2 separate regions of the Homo sapiens genome follow, and region 2 is linked to region 1. A link means that fine-mapping ties the variant in region 1 to the expression of a gene that starts in the linked region. Tissue or cell type: lung. Region 1 holds a variant in brackets; the other region holds the start of a gene. All regions are shown on one strand. Distances are between the middles of the regions.

The links. PIP is the estimated chance that this variant, and not a neighbour inherited with it, causes the effect.
Region 2: GUK1 starts here. The variant in region 1 is fine-mapped to the expression of GUK1 in lung (TOPMed, PIP above 0.99).

Annotation. Positions count from the first base shown.
Region 1 is chr1:228,738,199-228,746,454 of GRCh38, forward strand. It overlaps RHOU (ras homolog family member U), which reads left to right. Exons shown (of 3, transcript NM_021205.6): 3 at 5,087-8,256. The coding sequence ends at 5,542. Among named protein-coding and RNA genes, the nearest start is that of RHOU, 6.8 kb to the left of the region's middle. The variant A/G (reference allele first, on the strand shown) is at 4,400.
Region 2 is chr1:228,136,046-228,144,045 of GRCh38, forward strand. It overlaps GUK1 (guanylate kinase 1), which reads left to right and starts at 4,234. Exons shown (of 8, transcript NM_001159390.2): 1 at 4,234-4,318. The coding sequence starts at 4,258. It also overlaps the pseudogene RPS28P3. RefSeq lists enhancers at 3,861-3,910, 4,021-4,250, 7,842-8,000 and a silencer at 4,261-4,820.

The DNA of each region.
Region 1 (8,256 bases):
GGTTTGACTCGCTAGGACCAGCCCCATCACTTGAAGCACAGATACATTTGTCAGAGCAGTCCTAAGCTGGAGGGATGAACTAACTGGGCTTATTCTATCCAAACTGTGAACGCTGGTTCTTGTCTCGAGGGCTGGGCCCTTGGAGGAAATAGCCAGGGAGTGTAGGGTTCCCTCTTTGTGTTCCCCAGAAGAAGCCCCCATTGGTGGGTACTCGAGTCATTGAAGTCAGGCTGTGCCTTGTGAACACCCAGGGGTACTTGATTTTGGCAAAGTGATAGTTAATGAACTTGTCTCTCTAGTATGTTCTAGAGTTCAGCAAAGTTCCGGGGGTACTTTGTAGGCAGGTGAAAGTGCCCCCTTCACTTTCTGAGGTGCCATCACATGACTATCTGTGTTTATGAAGGCACTGGCTTTCCACTGCCCCCCAGAGCCTCATCTACGCCAGAGCTTCCAAGTTGCTCACCTACTCTGGGACAGCAGATTCAGAGCTAAGGACAGATCTTATTTTTTAAACCTGAAGATGACATAAGACCGTGGAGCCTTGATCTCCAAGGAACACCGGGCTGGTGCAGGCCATAGCTTGGGAGCACTTCAGCTTGGAAAAACCAAGCACTGTCCGTATTGTATTGTCTGTAGAAAACAAAAATCAGGCTGGGTGTGGTGGCTCATGCTCTTTGGGAGGCTGAGGTGGGAGGATTGCATGAGGCCAGGAATTTGAGACCAGCCTGGGTAGCATAGCAAGACATCATCTCTACAAAATAAAAAAATTAGCCTGGTGTGGTGGCACTGTCTGTAGTCCCAGCCACCAGCCACTCAGGAGGCTGAGGTGAGAGGATCGCTTGAACCCAGGAGTTTGAGGCTGTAGTGAGCTATGATGGTGCCACTGCACTCCAGCCTGGGCGACAGAGCAAGATCCCATCTCTTGGGGGTAAAAAAAAAGAAAAATCAAAGAATACAGTCACTTCTAGCACTGAATCTTTCTGAATGCAATGGTGATATTTATAATTCAAGCTTCATTTCCTTGTATGAAGTGAGGATGCTTTGTCTACCAGGGGGTCAGGTTTTCTGAGTTTTAAAACATGGCCAGCCAGGCGCGGTTGCTCACGCCTGTAATCCCAGCACTTTGGGAGGCTGAGACGGGTGGATCATGAGGTCAGGAGTTCAAGACCAGCCTGGCCAAGATGGTGAAACCCCGTCTCTACTAAAAATACAAAAATTAGCTGGGTGTGGTGCCGGGCGCCTGTAATAGCAGCTACTCAGGAGCCTGAGGCAGACAGTTGCTTGAACCTGGGAGGCGGAGGTTGCAGTGGGCTGAGATCGCGTCACTGCCCTGCAGCCTGGTTGACAGAGAGAGATTCCATCTCAAAAAAAATAAAACACAGGCAGAGGAACATGTCAGTAAACATAGCCATCGGACCTGCTGAAGTCAGACCCTGAGGATAAGATGGAAGTCAGGAAAATACAGGAAGTCCAAAGGCACAGTTAGCAGGGAGCCTTACGGGCTGGAGCAGAAGCTCAGTGCACCTACCTGCCCCAGGATGTCACTCAAATATCACTGTCCACTGGGCTCCCCGTAAGTGTTGGCTCTTCAAGCAGGATGCAGCTTCTTGAGCTGGGGTTTCATGCCCAGTGCCCAGCATAGTGCCTGGCACATAGCAGGGCTTAATCTCGTGGTTTTAGAATGGATGAACCAGAGAAGGACCAGGTGGTGGGGGTATAAACATAAGTTGTGGGCCTGCCCCTTAATAGACTTACAGTGTGGAGGGAAGACAAATGGAAGCTCGTGAAGGAGCAAGCAAAGGGAAGAAAAGAGGTTCGGGCTTAGAGGTGCAGGCTGGTTGGGCCTGGCAGGAAAACCTCTGAGCAGAGTTTTGAAAGACAAATAGGAATTTTACCAGAAGAACTTTGCATAAATGACTGAATCATCAAGGAAGAGTTAAATTGTTCCTGTTTAAAAATCAGGGAAGCACAAGCATCACTTTAGTAGTATTTTTGCACAAAAAAGTTTATAATTAGGGAAAAACGAAGGTTTTGGTGCTACATTTGTAAGTTTCAGTTTATTTGAAAATTATTCTTCTGGCCTCTTAGCAATATTTTCAATGAGATTTACTGTATTTCTTAACCTTTGTGTACTGGTTAGAAGAGTATACCCAATTAAATAATGAATAAGACCACTATCTAAAAATTTGTAGACTTTTAGAACCAACTTCAAAACTTTTGAAGAAGAACCATCTTCAAAAACTATGAAAAATAAGCTGCTGGTAAGATAAGTCAGTTGTTCTGTTTTTGTTTTCCTGATCCCCCATTTATAAATTAGTCTTTGTTTAGACTACTAGCCAAGCTGGTCAAAGTGGCAGTTCTTTTCTACTCTCCCTAGTCCTGATCTGATAAAATACATTTTAAGGGACTTGCTGTGATACCTGCCAAGTTTCCTTATGGAGGAAGGAACACATACCTCTTCTAGGCAGTTGACATAAGAGCCTTGAGGGTTAAGTGACTCCACTGACCTCCACTTCAGATGCCTGGAGAATCAACGTGAGCACAGATAGGCTAGAACTTGGGGATGTGGAGCTGGAGTGTGGGTTTCCCACAGAAGTTGATGGGAGCAGAGTATGGATGGCTCTACATGCTGAAGAAATCACTTCTTGTACTTTGGCTTTTCTTGTTAGGGAGGGTAGGCGAGTCTATAAGATGTCAAAAGGAGTTTTTAACACTGGTCTTACATCACTCAAGGGCAGATTGATCAGAGACAGACTGGAGGCTTGAAAAAACATACCTTTGGCATAAGAGAAAAAAGTATTGCGGAAATAGGAGTAGTTCACTGGAGAGTTGCCAATAGAAGCTGAAAATTCTTCAGCCTTTTGACCCATAAAGTACTTGGAAAAATCTTATACTGAAAAAAAAAAATCAAGTTGCAGCTAGACCAGAGGGATGTAGAATCCAGTCTCGTCTCTCTGCCCCGCCAACCCTGATCAGACTTCTGTGCAGTGTCCGTACCACAGACCTGGCAAGCACATGCAAATTGCTTGGCCTCAGAACGCCTTTTCTTAAGGGTGCATTCCAGTTGTCCTCATTGCACGTGTGTATTGCATTATTTCTAAGATTTCAGGTCAGGCACTGAGCAGGAGGGTCTAATTTCTGTTTTATTTCTCAAGCCCCTTAGCCAGAATCTCAAGAGATCTGGGGAGATAGCTTTCCAAAGCCCCCTCAGAAGTCCCAGCCCTTGTGCTTGCCTTTATTTTTCTCAGTAATGCAACCCCAGATACCAGGGCATGGCCAGGGGTGCAGCTACCTGAGGGGGCTGCCTTAATACTGGTCTCAGTTTTATGCTTCTTTCTTTGAGGCCCTCTAAGAACAGAGGGAGCATTCCATTAAAAGATCTTCATGACTGAGCCATAGTCTACCTGGCTGTGTTTCTGTGTTTATTTATTCATCACAAAGTTGGCATGAAGAAACTTAAGTCATTATTTTTCTTTTTAAAAATTTTTTTTAGAGAGCAGGGTCTTGGTATGTCACCCAGGCTGGTCTCAAACTCCAGGGCTCAAGTGATCCCCCTGCCTCAGCTTCCCAAGTAACTGTGACTATAGGCACGTGCCACCACATTTGGCTAAGTCATACTTTTTCAACTTTCGCTTACAGAAGCCTCACAAGTGACATTCTGAAATACCACATTGATTGCTGAGCATTTTAGCTGGTTGACTTTAATGTGATTAGTTGGTTGGCTGTCGTCCCGTAATTGAAACATGGGGCCTCAAATGAAGAAAGTACATTCAAATAAGTTACAGGTTTCTTTTATACCAAGAGAAAAAAGCCACGGATGGAGTATAATGTGATGTAAATGGTACTTGGTAAATAATCGGAGTGTGTCAATTGAGTAATGAAAAACATGAATGGCGTTGAACTTTTTCTTGTCATTGGGAAATTATTTATACCTGAGGATGGTTGGCACCAACAGATATACATTTTACATAGGAAAGAGTAAATATTTTTCTACAAAAGAGTTGAGCAAAAGTTGTCAGTTAGCTGAATATGGTGCTACAGGGAACTATAGGATGTTTTCTGTAAAGAAATGGTAATTTGGAGAACAACATCTGTCTGTTCACAGCCAAATCCCCTCGCCTGCCACTGTGCCTTGAGTGTAGGTGATGTTCAGTGTGTCTGTTAAATGGATGACCACGGGAGAGCATTGGCAGCACAACCGTTGGTTTATTTGTAATCAACTCTAACTTATTCTATCCACTTCTCTATACTTTAAGGGTAGGGTGGGCGTGCCTATTCTCCAGTTCTTATCTGTCCAAAGCACTGTACATGGAGGCCATGGGTACTGGCAAGGATAAAGGAAGTAGGAGAAAATGAAGGAAGGAGGGAGGAAGAGAAGATACAGCCAGAATGAGGATGT[A/G]TTAACTAGTGTCTGTAAGTGGCACTGAGCTGCAAAAGTTTTCTGAGTCACGATGACAATGGACTGACAAAGGTCCTCAACTCCATTTCTGGTCTGGCCTTGAGTCTGATTAGCATTACTCTGCGTTGCTGTGCATAGTGTGGGCAGAGCGTGTGCACAGTGCAGATGGGATGAAATTGGCATCACTCAGAGCTGTTGGGAAAGGCAGGGCTGGATTGATAAAGAGAGGAGCTGTGTTCGTAGACTGGGTTTGAGTGGGAGTCTTGAGGATCAATATGGGTGTGGTCTGAATTTTAGAAGAGTAGCTAAGTACCAAGAGTTGAGAGTAGGTTTGGGTTACACTCAGCTGAAGGCTTAAGTCCATTTTATTTCTAGAACCCACCTACTTTGAGCACTTTTTCTATGTTAAGCTGTAAGTAGGTCTTGAGTGTCGATGAACACGTTGAACATGTTTGGCAGTGTTCAGACCATAGCTGGCCCTGAAAGCAGATGGCTGCCACACCTTCGCTGGTGCACTGGCCCCGCTTGGGTAAACAGTAGGATCGTTTCAAGGATGCTGGCTCTTCCTTCTAGAACCAGCGGGTCTTCTATCACCTGCCAGACCCTTTCATGAAAAATGTGAAGGTGATCTTTTTACTGATGAGAATTCATGAAAACATAACTTTTGGGTACTTTGCTTGGTTGCAGGATGAATTTGACAAGCTGAGGCCTCTCTGCTACACCAACACAGACATCTTCCTGCTCTGCTTCAGTGTCGTGAGCCCCTCATCCTTCCAGAACGTCAGTGAGAAATGGGTGCCGGAGATTCGATGCCACTGTCCCAAAGCCCCCATCATCCTAGTTGGAACGCAGTCGGATCTCAGAGAAGATGTCAAAGTCCTCATTGAGTTGGACAAATGCAAAGAAAAGCCAGTGCCTGAAGAGGCGGCTAAGCTGTGCGCCGAGGAAATCAAAGCCGCCTCCTACATCGAGTGTTCAGCCTTGACTCAAAAAAACCTCAAAGAGGTCTTTGATGCAGCCATCGTCGCTGGCATTCAATACTCGGACACTCAGCAACAGCCAAAGAAGTCTAAAAGCAGGACTCCAGATAAAATGAAAAACCTCTCCAAGTCCTGGTGGAAGAAGTACTGCTGTTTCGTATGATGCTGGCAAGACACCCAGAAAGGCTATTTTCAGATGAAATCGATATTAGAAGCTATATTAGCTGAAACAACTCCTTTTACTGCGTAGAACCTATATCGAGAGTGTGTGTATATGTATTATAGGAGGAGCTCTCAATTTTATGTATTCTTTCTGCCTTTAATTTTCTTGTTTGTTTGAGCTTAGGGATGAGATACTTATGCAAGATATTTTTGAAGTAAATTAAACATTTTTCACATCTCTGGAAATTTAGAGTTCTAGACCTCTGGTTAATTTATATCTAATATGAAGAAGACACCTCTAATCTGGATGTTAAGAATGAAGTTCTGCTACATTATAATGTACAGAAGAGCAAAAGGGAGGAACACTATGGTTAACCCTCTCTTGATTAAGGGCTACTTAATGCACAGTGCATTATGTACACAGGTCAACCATGGTAACAATAGTTCTTAGCTTTGAAACTCCATGCAAACCATGCCTTTTTTTTAAGGAGCAAAAATCTGAGAAAAAAAGTGAGAGACCTCTGCCTACAAAACCTCAAACCAGTCACTTTTGTCAATTGCTAATACCCAGTTACTTATGATTTAAAAACAACCAACAGAAAACATCCCACTGACTGTATGGCACTCTGTAGTCAAAAAAGGAAACTTCCTTATTGGGACTTTTCTTTCTTAGTCCAGTTGTGTTGACACATATGAACACAGACAAAGTGCTATGCGGAGGAAAGCAAGTGTTGGTCAGTAGTTTCATGTTTTAGGGAGTGGTTCCTGTGGAGATCAGAAAGTGACATTTGCTTTCGGTACTGTAATACGTGCACCAAACTGCCTCAATCCTAGGTAACGAGGGCAACAGGGAGCACCTGTCTGGATTGTTTTTAAACCTCCATACTCAAGCTGTCTCTTCGGCAGGGAGGTGAATACTCTTGAAAGGCCAACAGCAAGTGTTTGTGGGACACAACACAGATAATTTTTTCTTAAGTCGGCCAAGATGTACTTCTCTGTGTGCACACCCATGCACACTCATGCACACAGATACATAGGTCTGTATGGCTGTATTTGCTGTTGATTCAGACTTTCACACCATTAATGGGGAAAAGCGTGGCCACAAAAACAGATGCTAGGAAGCTTGGCTTCCTCTTCTTGTTGACCCTTTTTTGAACCAACATCTTTTTTATTATATTCAGAGTATGTTTTTAAGTGTATCTTAATATATACATTTTTTAGGACATCTTAAATCTAAACAAAAAATAAAATGAACATCTCTTGAAACCTGTTAAAACAACCAGTTAAAGCCACAGATGGCTTTCAGGGCAGTAGCAGCAGAGGCCAGTGGACTCTGAGGACTCCTGAGGGGCGGGGCGTGTAGCCAGCCAGGTGCATGCCGGGACCATGGCCCCCATACTTGGCTGCTTCCTGTGACAGTGAAATACATCCTTCAAGGTGGCAGCTGTTAGGGCTGAATCTTCTGGAGAAAAAGGTGCCATCTCAGGAGAATAGCTTTTACTCTGGTAGGAATGCTTCCGAGACACCACAAGGCAGCCTGAACACTCAGTTGCAGGGTCGGGCTTGCGGTGGGTGACCCAGAGCCACCAAAGTCACATCCACAACTAATGAGGGAAATCTGTAAAGCCAGTTAGATAGAAGAATTTTATTTTTCTGTGGGTTTTGTGTTGTCTTTTTTATGTTAAAAAGAAATCCAGTTTGTGTTTTTCTATAGAAAAAGTAAAAGATCAGGTTATACTTTAGGTTAGGGGTTCTATTTATTCCTGTTAGTAAATAAAATTAACAAATTTCTTTGTTTAACAAAAGATTAATCTTTAAACCACTAAAATACATAGACTGATTGATTATTCAACACATTGGAATTGATGTCGGTCATAGTTTCCTGAAGCATTTAGTTACAACCTGAAGGAATAAAATGATTTGTGGAAATGCTTAAAATAGACCTAACTGAATACAGTCTCATCTTGCCGCGCCTGGCTTACCTATCTGTGGAAAGCTAGGCTTCCCAGGCTGGGCTCTGCCTGTCTGGTGCCTGGAGGTGTGGGAGGGAAGATGAGTTATTTAACTGGTAAGCGATTTGAAACACTATTTTTATATTAAAGTAAATGGCATGGAGTATAGTGCAAATTCATTTTTAAGATAGAACACAAAACTTGAAAGAAGTTTTATGCGTGTGACAGTGTATGGGGCTGCAGTTGGTCTCCCTGGAGGGGACTTCCACACCTCCTGCCTTTAGGCCATGGGTGGAAAGTGCTCAGTGAAGTACACCTGTGTGGCCCAGTTCTGAAAGCTTTATACAGTTGAATTTTAAGTGGGGTTGATAACACCTTGGACTGTTAGTGTTAAAAATCTAGTGGGTTGACCTTTAAATGCAACAGTTTTTAAAATATATTGCTGCATTTTATAGAATAGTAAAGGTACGATTATACTTGAGATTTTCCTCCATTTTTATTTCTTCGTGAACATAGAGTTTGGGGCCGAAAATGTTTTTAAAGTATGTGTTTGAGTTAAATATAAAGTTGGTTCACTTCAAAGCTAAAAAATTGTTAAACTTGCAGCTTGGTATTGCAGAGAAGATTTTATAAGAATTTTGCTTTAGAGAATGCCACTTTGGCTGAACTACAAGTGTAGGCCACCATTATAATTTATAAATACAGCATACTTCAAAACTGTTTGTTATCTCTTGTTACCATGTATGTATAAATGGACCTTTTA
Region 2 (8,000 bases), 600 kb before region 1:
ATGGAGGGAAGATCACTTGAGGCTAGAAGGTTGAGGCTGTAGGGAGCTATTATTGCACCACTGTGCTCCAGCCTGGGCAACAGAGTGAGGCCCTGACAGAAGAAGAGGAAGAAAGAAGAGGAAGAAGGAGGAGGAGAATCTGCCCTCTTTATAACAGGACACAATTGGAAATATTGGTTATATTATGACTGGGATATCGAAATTGAGACTGTAGATACAGACTTTGCCTGCAGTACTTACAGACGCATTCTATCTACACTGGCTTCCTAGCATCGAAAGATTTTTAAAAGTTCATTTTGAGATTCCTGATCTAAAGTTCCACCCAAGCAAACTTAAAAGAGCCTATGTGGTTGATGCTATTCTCACTGAACTTACCTAAATAAGCAGGGCAAGTTTGATGAGGCTAAACATTTTGCAAACAAATTAGTCTTACTCTGATTATCTCTGGTAGAAATGAGGGGCAACTGTAAAGAGAAAATGTATGTTTCAGAAGAAAGAACATTATAGTACACTTGTTCTTAGATTGTAGCCTTGTTTGTTGTTCTAGAGTTTTTATTATCTACCTGCAGAATGGACTGGACCCTGAATTCTTCTTGTTTCCTCCAACATATGTTGACAACTCTCCACCTTAAGAACAAAGCTACTAAGCTGGACAACTTGATGTAAGCATCAAGGGACAAGTCTCATGCCAACGTGTGGACCATACAGAGTTCACCAAACCATCTGTTGTCATAATCAGAGACAGTCATATTACAAATCAGGACCAGAAGTTGACCATTTTACATTGTGAAGCTTTTCCCCAGATATCCAAAGAAGACTAGCCTCTTGCCCCTCTCAATTTTTCCTTGCTCATGCCTATCTCTTTCACTTGGCAGGCTAATGCTGTAGTTAGAATTTCACACCAGTAGCTTCTGTGGGTTACCTGATAAATATATCGGGTCTGTCAGGCCAGACTCTCATCTTTATGACCCAACAGATCCTTTAGTTTACTTAGTGGGTAAGTTTGGCAACATCCCTGATGCAACTGTTTGGCATCAAAGCAAACCAGACCCACTTCTTCTCACTCCCTGCCTTAATTTTACATAGATTACCTACTAGCTGAACAGGAAGGGGTCTGTGTGGTTTCTGACACATCTTGTTGCACATGGGTAAATACATCAGGTATTGTAGACTCAGCTGCAAAAAATTAACAAACAGGCTACTTGGTTAAAATGGGTAGACTCCCCATCTGGCTTATTGTTTGATCTATTCAGTTTTCGTTGGTTGGGTTCACAGGGACTCTGGCTAAGGAACATACTCCAAACCCTTGGTATTATCCTCCTGACAGTCACAATAGTAGTCTCCCTGGTGTGTTGTATCCTTTCAAATGTTTTAAATGTTTGCATGTGACCATCCATTGAACATCAAATGGTCCCTCTTCAGCTGGAATGACACAAACTCAAAGAAATGCATGATCATGGCCAGGCATGGTGGCTCACGCCTGCAATCCCAGCACTTTGGGAGGCCAAGGCGGGCGGATCATGTGGTCAGAAGTTTGAGACCAGCCTGGCCAATATGGTGAAACTCCATCTCTACTAAAAATACAAAAATTAGCTGGGCATGGTGGTGGGCACCTGTAATCCCAGCTACTCAGGAGGCTGAGGCAGGAGAATTGTTTGAACCCAGGAGGTGGAGGTCGCAGTGAGCTGAGATTGTGCTATTGCACTGGGCGACAGGGCGAGACTCCGTCTCAAAAAAAAAAAGAAAGAAAGAAAAGAAAAGCATGATCATGAAGACACTGTAACCTATCAATGACATGTTGAGACCAGAAACCCAAACTGATAGTAACTGAGAGAGGCACTTTTAAGTTTTGGTCAAGCTAGGTGAGAGCCTGATCAAAATGGGTAAAAATTGTTTTTAAAAAATCATGGGAGGCCATTGTTTTGGACCGAGCTCTTGCACTAGGTCCCAATAGACCAGGCCAAACCAAAATTAAATCACTTATGTTAAATACTACATAAGAAACTAAATCCCAAAACAGATTAGTTTTTCCTCAGTTGGCATAATAAGGAAGTCCCTTCTTCTCTCTAACCCTTACAAAAGAGTAACCTGAAGTAAGCTAAGGTTATCAATCTGTTATTTTTCTATCTTGTTTCCTCGTTCTCCTCACCTTACAAAACCCATGGTTCTGCTATCGCCCAGGCAGGGGCTTTTTTTTTTTTTTTTTTTTTTTTTGAGATGGTCGCGCTCTGTCGCCCAAGCTGGAGTGCAGTGGCGCATCTCAGCTCACTGCAAGCTCCACCTCCCGGGTCCACGCCATTCTCCTGCCTCAGCCTCCTGCGTAGCTGGGACTACAGGTGCCCGCCACCACACCTGGCTAATTCAGGCAGGGGCTTTTATTCTATTTTGTAGAATGAAGGCTGCCTCAATTCATGAATCACGAATAAAAGCCAGCGAGACCTATGAATACATATGACATAATTTTGCCTCTGACAGTGAACTTCCCCTTTTTTTGCCTAAAAAGCTTCTCCTTGCCCACCTCCCCCAATGCAGCACCTATGGTATGACATAGCACATGTATTCCAGGTTACAATCCCTTGTCCAACAAACTGTTTTATTATTAGTATTTAAAAAAAATAGAGACAAGGCTTTGCCATGTTGCCCAGGCTGGTCTCCAACTCCGGGGCAAGTGATCCATCCGCCTTGGCCTCCAAAAGTGCTGGGACTGCAGGCATGAGCCATGGTGCCCAGCCCCAACACATTTTTTTGAAGTTGTATTTTTTAAAGTTTTACTTTTTTTCTTGCTCTCCTGCAGTTCACATTCAATACTTTTTTTTTTTTTTTTTGAGACGGAGTCTCATTCTGTCGTCTAGGCTGGAGTGCCGTGGCTTGATCTCGGCTCACTGCAACCTCCACCTCCCAGGTTCAAGTGATCCTCCTGCCTCAGCCACCCCAGTAGCTGGAATTACAGGGGCCCACGACCACACCCAGCTGATTTTGTATTTTTAGTAGAGACAGAGTTTCACCATTTTGGCCAGGCTAGTCCCAAACTCCTGGCCTCAGGTGATCTGCCTGCCTCGGACTCCCAAAGTGCTGGCATTACAGGTGTGAGCCACTGCACCCAGCCTTCAATAAATCTTTTTTAAAAATTTAAAATAATTTTTAGAAATAGAGTCCCGTGGCCAGGTGCAGTGGCTCACGCCTGTAATCCCAGCACTTTGGGAGGCCAAGGTTGGTGGATTACCTGAGGTTAGGAGTTCAAGACCAGCCTGGCCAACATGGTGAAACCCTGTCTCTACTAAAAATACAAAAATTAGCTGGGCGTGGTGGCGGGCGCCTGTAATCCCAGCTACTCGGGAGGCTGAGGCAGGAGAATCGCTTGAACCTAGGAGGCCCAGGTTGCAGTGAGCAGAGATGGCGTCACTGAACTCCAGCCTGGGTGACAAGAGCGAAACTCCGTCTCAAAAAATAAAAAAAGAAAGAAATAGGGTCTCGCTCTGTCACACAGACTGGAGTGCAGTGACACGAACACCGCTCACTGCAGCCTCGACTGCCCAGGCTCAAGCGACCGTCCCACGTCAGCCTCCCGAGTAGCAAGGACTACAGGCACAAAAAAGTTTTTAAATTTTTTGGTACAGAAGGGGTTTCCCTATGATCCCCAGGCTGGTCTCCAATTCCTGGCCTCAAGCGGTCCTCCCGGCTCGGACTCCCAAAGAGCTGGGATCACAGACGTGAACCACGCGCCCGGCCACATTCCCCAATTAATGGTTTTTGGAGAGTGGCCGGTTTGGAACGGGCTAGCGGAGTCGTTCGTTAGTTAGGTCCCTGCAGTGTAGATGGAGGACGGAAACGGCGCTGTGACATAAGCGGGAGGAGGCGGGCTGAGGCAGCGCTGTGACGTAGCAGATGAAAGCCGGGCCCGCGCTGCACTGAGGTACTTCTCTGAGTGACAAGCGGGACAAGTACGCCGTGGGCGGGGCCGGCGGGTCGTGATGTTAGTTCGCGCTGTGTGGAGGCGGGCCGGCGTGGCGCTGTGACGCAGCGGGAGAAGACGGGCTGGGAGGGCGCTGTGCTGAACGCCCCTGCGGTCGCGACAGGCCAGCGCAGGTGGAGGCGGGGCTAGCGAGGCACTGAGGTAAGTACTTCCCTAAGGGGCGGGGAAGAACGAGTGAGACATGGGCGGGGCAGTCGCCTCATGACGTCAGTCTCGCGCGCGGGCGGAGGTGGGCCGGTGCGGCGCTGTCACGTAGGTTCAGTGGGCGGAAGAGGTGGCCCCGGATGCTGCGGCGCCCGCTGGCCGGGCTGGCTGCGGCCGCCCTGGGCCGGGCCCCACCGGACGGTGAGTACGACAAGCGCGATCGCGAGGGTGACTCGGGTCGAGGCGGCAGCGGTCCCTGCGCTTTGCGGTCGCCCAGTCCACGCCGCCTCCGGATCTCCTCCTAGCCGAGACGCCCTGTGCCGCATTCAACTGTGGGCCCTGAGAACGGGGGAGCTCTGGAGGGCGGACGGGCTGGCAACGCAGCGGAGCCCGGGTCCCGGAGGGCGGGGCGCTCCTCAGGAGCTGGGCAGGCCGGCAGTTATCGCAGTGTCGAGCTGCTCCCCGGGCGTATAGGAGCGCTCGGTGTCTTCCCGACACCTGGGCGCGCCGCCAAAGAGAGCAGCTGGGAGTCCCTACCGCTGGCCCGGCGCGGTGTGCGCTCCGGTTCCCACCTCACCCTGCAAGCCTTGGGGTCCTGGGCGGATGGAGCCGGCTATTCCGGGGCTCCCAGGATTCTGCCTACTCCGCGGCACGGCGCAGAGACGGGGACTTGGGGAAACAGCAGGCCTTCCCGACGCATGGGTGTGGCATTTGGGGTTCGGATTCTCCAAAGCCAGAGTCCGGGTTGGGGTTCTTGAAGCTGCCCTGCTGCCATTCTTGAGCGTCGCCTTAGAAGTATGCCCCAGTAAGGACTGGTGTGGGAAGCAGGTGCCTCAAAGTTGATTTTGACCCTGCGTGTGGTGGGCCTCGGTTTCGTCTTTGCATGAAAGAGGTCGGTCCTGAGGCCCCGGGCTGGGTCCTGCTCTGCTGTCTTTGGGCTCATGGCCCCTTCCTGTCTCAGGCTTGCTCTGCTCTTTACCTGGGGTTGCTGTCGAGGACCCTGTGCAAGACTCGGCCGGTTTTTCTTTCTCCCTGATGGACAGACCCAAACATAGCCGCGCAGCATCGTGAAGGGCTGGGGCCTTCACTCCTCTGTGGCTCTGGAAGAGCCCGATTTCCTCAGGAGGTAAAGGAATGTTCCTGTCCCCCCCGGGGAAAGAAAGTGAAAATGAAAGCGCCCTGGCTGCTCCTGGTGTGGTCCCATTTAAAACGAGGTTGCTGAAGGCCAGGATGCGTGCTACCCGGATGTGTGCCCAGAAACCCTGCAGCCAAGAGCAGCCGCCTGGACCACCAGCCTCCCCTTCATCCACCTGGCCCAGCCCAGAGCCCAGGCCCACGTCTGGTGGTTTGTGTCTTACGAGAGGCCAGGCGGGGGCTGAATTCTCTCGGTTCTCAGAAGGTCAAGCCCTCTGTTAGCATCTCCTCGAACAGTGGGCCGGGGGCAAGGTGGTGACTCTGTTCAGTCCTTAGGATGGCTGGAAGCCAGAAGGAGGAGATTATGCCGCCACAGCAGGGAGTGCCTTTCCAGGAAAGCGGCTGCTGGGGCAGCATGGGAGCCCAGTCCAGGGAGCGTTCTGGCAGAGACCATTCCGGAACATGGATCTGCGCCGGCGGCTCCCAGGAGACCTTCCATCTCGGAGCTCCTGTGGAGACCACGTGCCTGGCAGGTCCTTACAGTTGTGGGTTGTGTGGCTTCTTGCCAGGCAGCTGATTGGAGTTTGCGACTGTGGGTTGGTGAGAGTGGAGAGCACAGAATGTTTGCTGGAATGCTTCCCTCTGCCCACAGGAAGACACCTTTGGCGCATGTGTTCTGGTCAGGGCAAAGGCTCCGTGGTTTCCACCGCAAGATTGCAGGAGCCTTGAGGCCTGGGCCACAGTTTTCTCCCTTGGGTGTGCTCCATGGAAGGTGGCTTTGGTGACCGCCCTGCCACTGGTCTCTCCCCAGGCAGGCAGGCAGCCTGTGCCTCCGCCCTGTCTCCAGCGGTGGTGGTGTGGCTGTGCTTCTGCAAGGCCCGCATCCACTCACTGTCTGCCCTCTGCACTCTCTGGCTGGCCAGGGCCCCCAGTAGTCTGCTCATTGTGCCCTCACGCTTGGGCAGAGCCGAACTCAGGGGACCCAGGAAGAGCGGAGTGTTGGCCCGTCCAGAGTTCTTGGCAATTGGTGTGTCATGTGTGCCTCGTGCCCTGTGCTGGGCGAGAGTGGGCACAGCTGCGCAGACAACGCCCTTGGCGAGGCTGGAGCCTGGACCCCTGCCTGGCAGCAGCTGGGTGAACTGGTGTCTTCTGCCTGCGGGCCCAGCCTCACCTCAATAGCTTACTGCTCCCTCAGGAGGGAGGAGGGGAGGCCTGGGAGCCTGGGCTTGGCGGGGTAAGGGTGGTGCAGGGGCAACACCTGTGGAGGAAACAGGCGGGGTTGGGGCCCACCAGCGTCTGCTGTCTGCTCTGTGCTGGGTTGCATCTGTTGGTGTCTGATCGTTGTCAGGGCCCTGTGGTGAAGAGACACACCTGCCACTTGCTGCTTGCGAGGAAAGGGGGAGATCCCCAACCCAGGAGCCAGAGGTGGGACTCCAGCACCCCCCATTCCTGGGAGTTGGAAGTGAGGCACGAGCTCCCCAATTCCTGGGCATCGGGGATGGGGTTTGGGGCCGAGGAGGGGATGGAGACCAGGGTCTTGTGGTAGTTTGGTGGGATCCTCAGAAGGTGTGGCTCTCCCCCTTCTGAGGACGCAAAAACTCCCAGAGTTTTTGGCGATTGATGTGCCACGTGTGCCTTGTGCCCTGTGCTGGGCGAGTGTAGGCACAGCTGTGCAGACGACGCCCTTGGCAAGGCTGGAGCCTGGACCCCTGCCTGGCAGCAGCTGGGCGAACTGGTGTCTTCTGCCTGTGGGCCCAGCTTCACTTCACTAGCTTAGCGCTCCCTCAGGAGGGAGGAGGGGAGGCCTGGTCAGTGGAGGTCACCACTGTGTTTCCTTCTGTGTGGGTTTATAGTCACGTAGCATCTAGGTTCAGACCCGAAGAGCTTGGAGCCAGGGGCTGGGGGGAACAGGGCAGGACCGGCCTTGGGGCAGCCCTGTCAGGCCCACCAGTGCCATGCTGGTTGTGGGTTGGCAGGGCAGAGTGACCTTAAGAAGGGCCAGCTCAGTGGAGCAACAGGACAGAAGCTCACATGGGGTCCAGCCCACAGGACCATTTGAGTAGCTCTCCCATATCGGGTCCTTCGAAGCACATGATTTAGCTTTACTTTTTCTCCTTCGTATTAGAAAAGTCACCATAATACCATCAAGTCATAATTTCTGTGATCTCAGTGCTTCAAGTAGGTGTGTAGCAATTGCTGGATGTGTCCTGAGAACTGTACCCCTTCCACCCTGGCGAGAAGCAGGGGCCAGAAATTCACACAAGTGGCATGGCTCATTGATTGTGGGAGACTCTGGGGGGCTCCTAGCTAGTGCATTATGGGAACCAGGCTGTGGAGGTTGCAGGGCTCGCTGGCTGGGAGAAGCTGAATGGATAAAGAACCCTGGCCACTGCAGTGCGTGCTGATGGTTGGCTGGCACGTAGAGGAGGTGGCAGGGCTGGGTGAGCAGCAGGAGCCAGGTTAGTGGGGAGGCCCGAGCTAAGCGCAGGGGCAAATTCTGCGGGTGGGAGAGCCAGGAGGGCATGGGGTGCATGGTGAGATGAAAACGATGTGTGCTTGTGACAAAAAGCCCAGAAGAGGCAGTAAGGAGGGAGGAGTCTATCCCTTATGGAGAGCACATGGACTTCTGGGTGGGTGTCCTGCAGTTCCCTTCCTCTTGAGTCTTTTTAACTGGGGGTCCGGTGTGTTTGTGATCAATGACATGTATGCGTGTGCATGTGTACCTTTGCAGGTACACATGTGTGGTGTG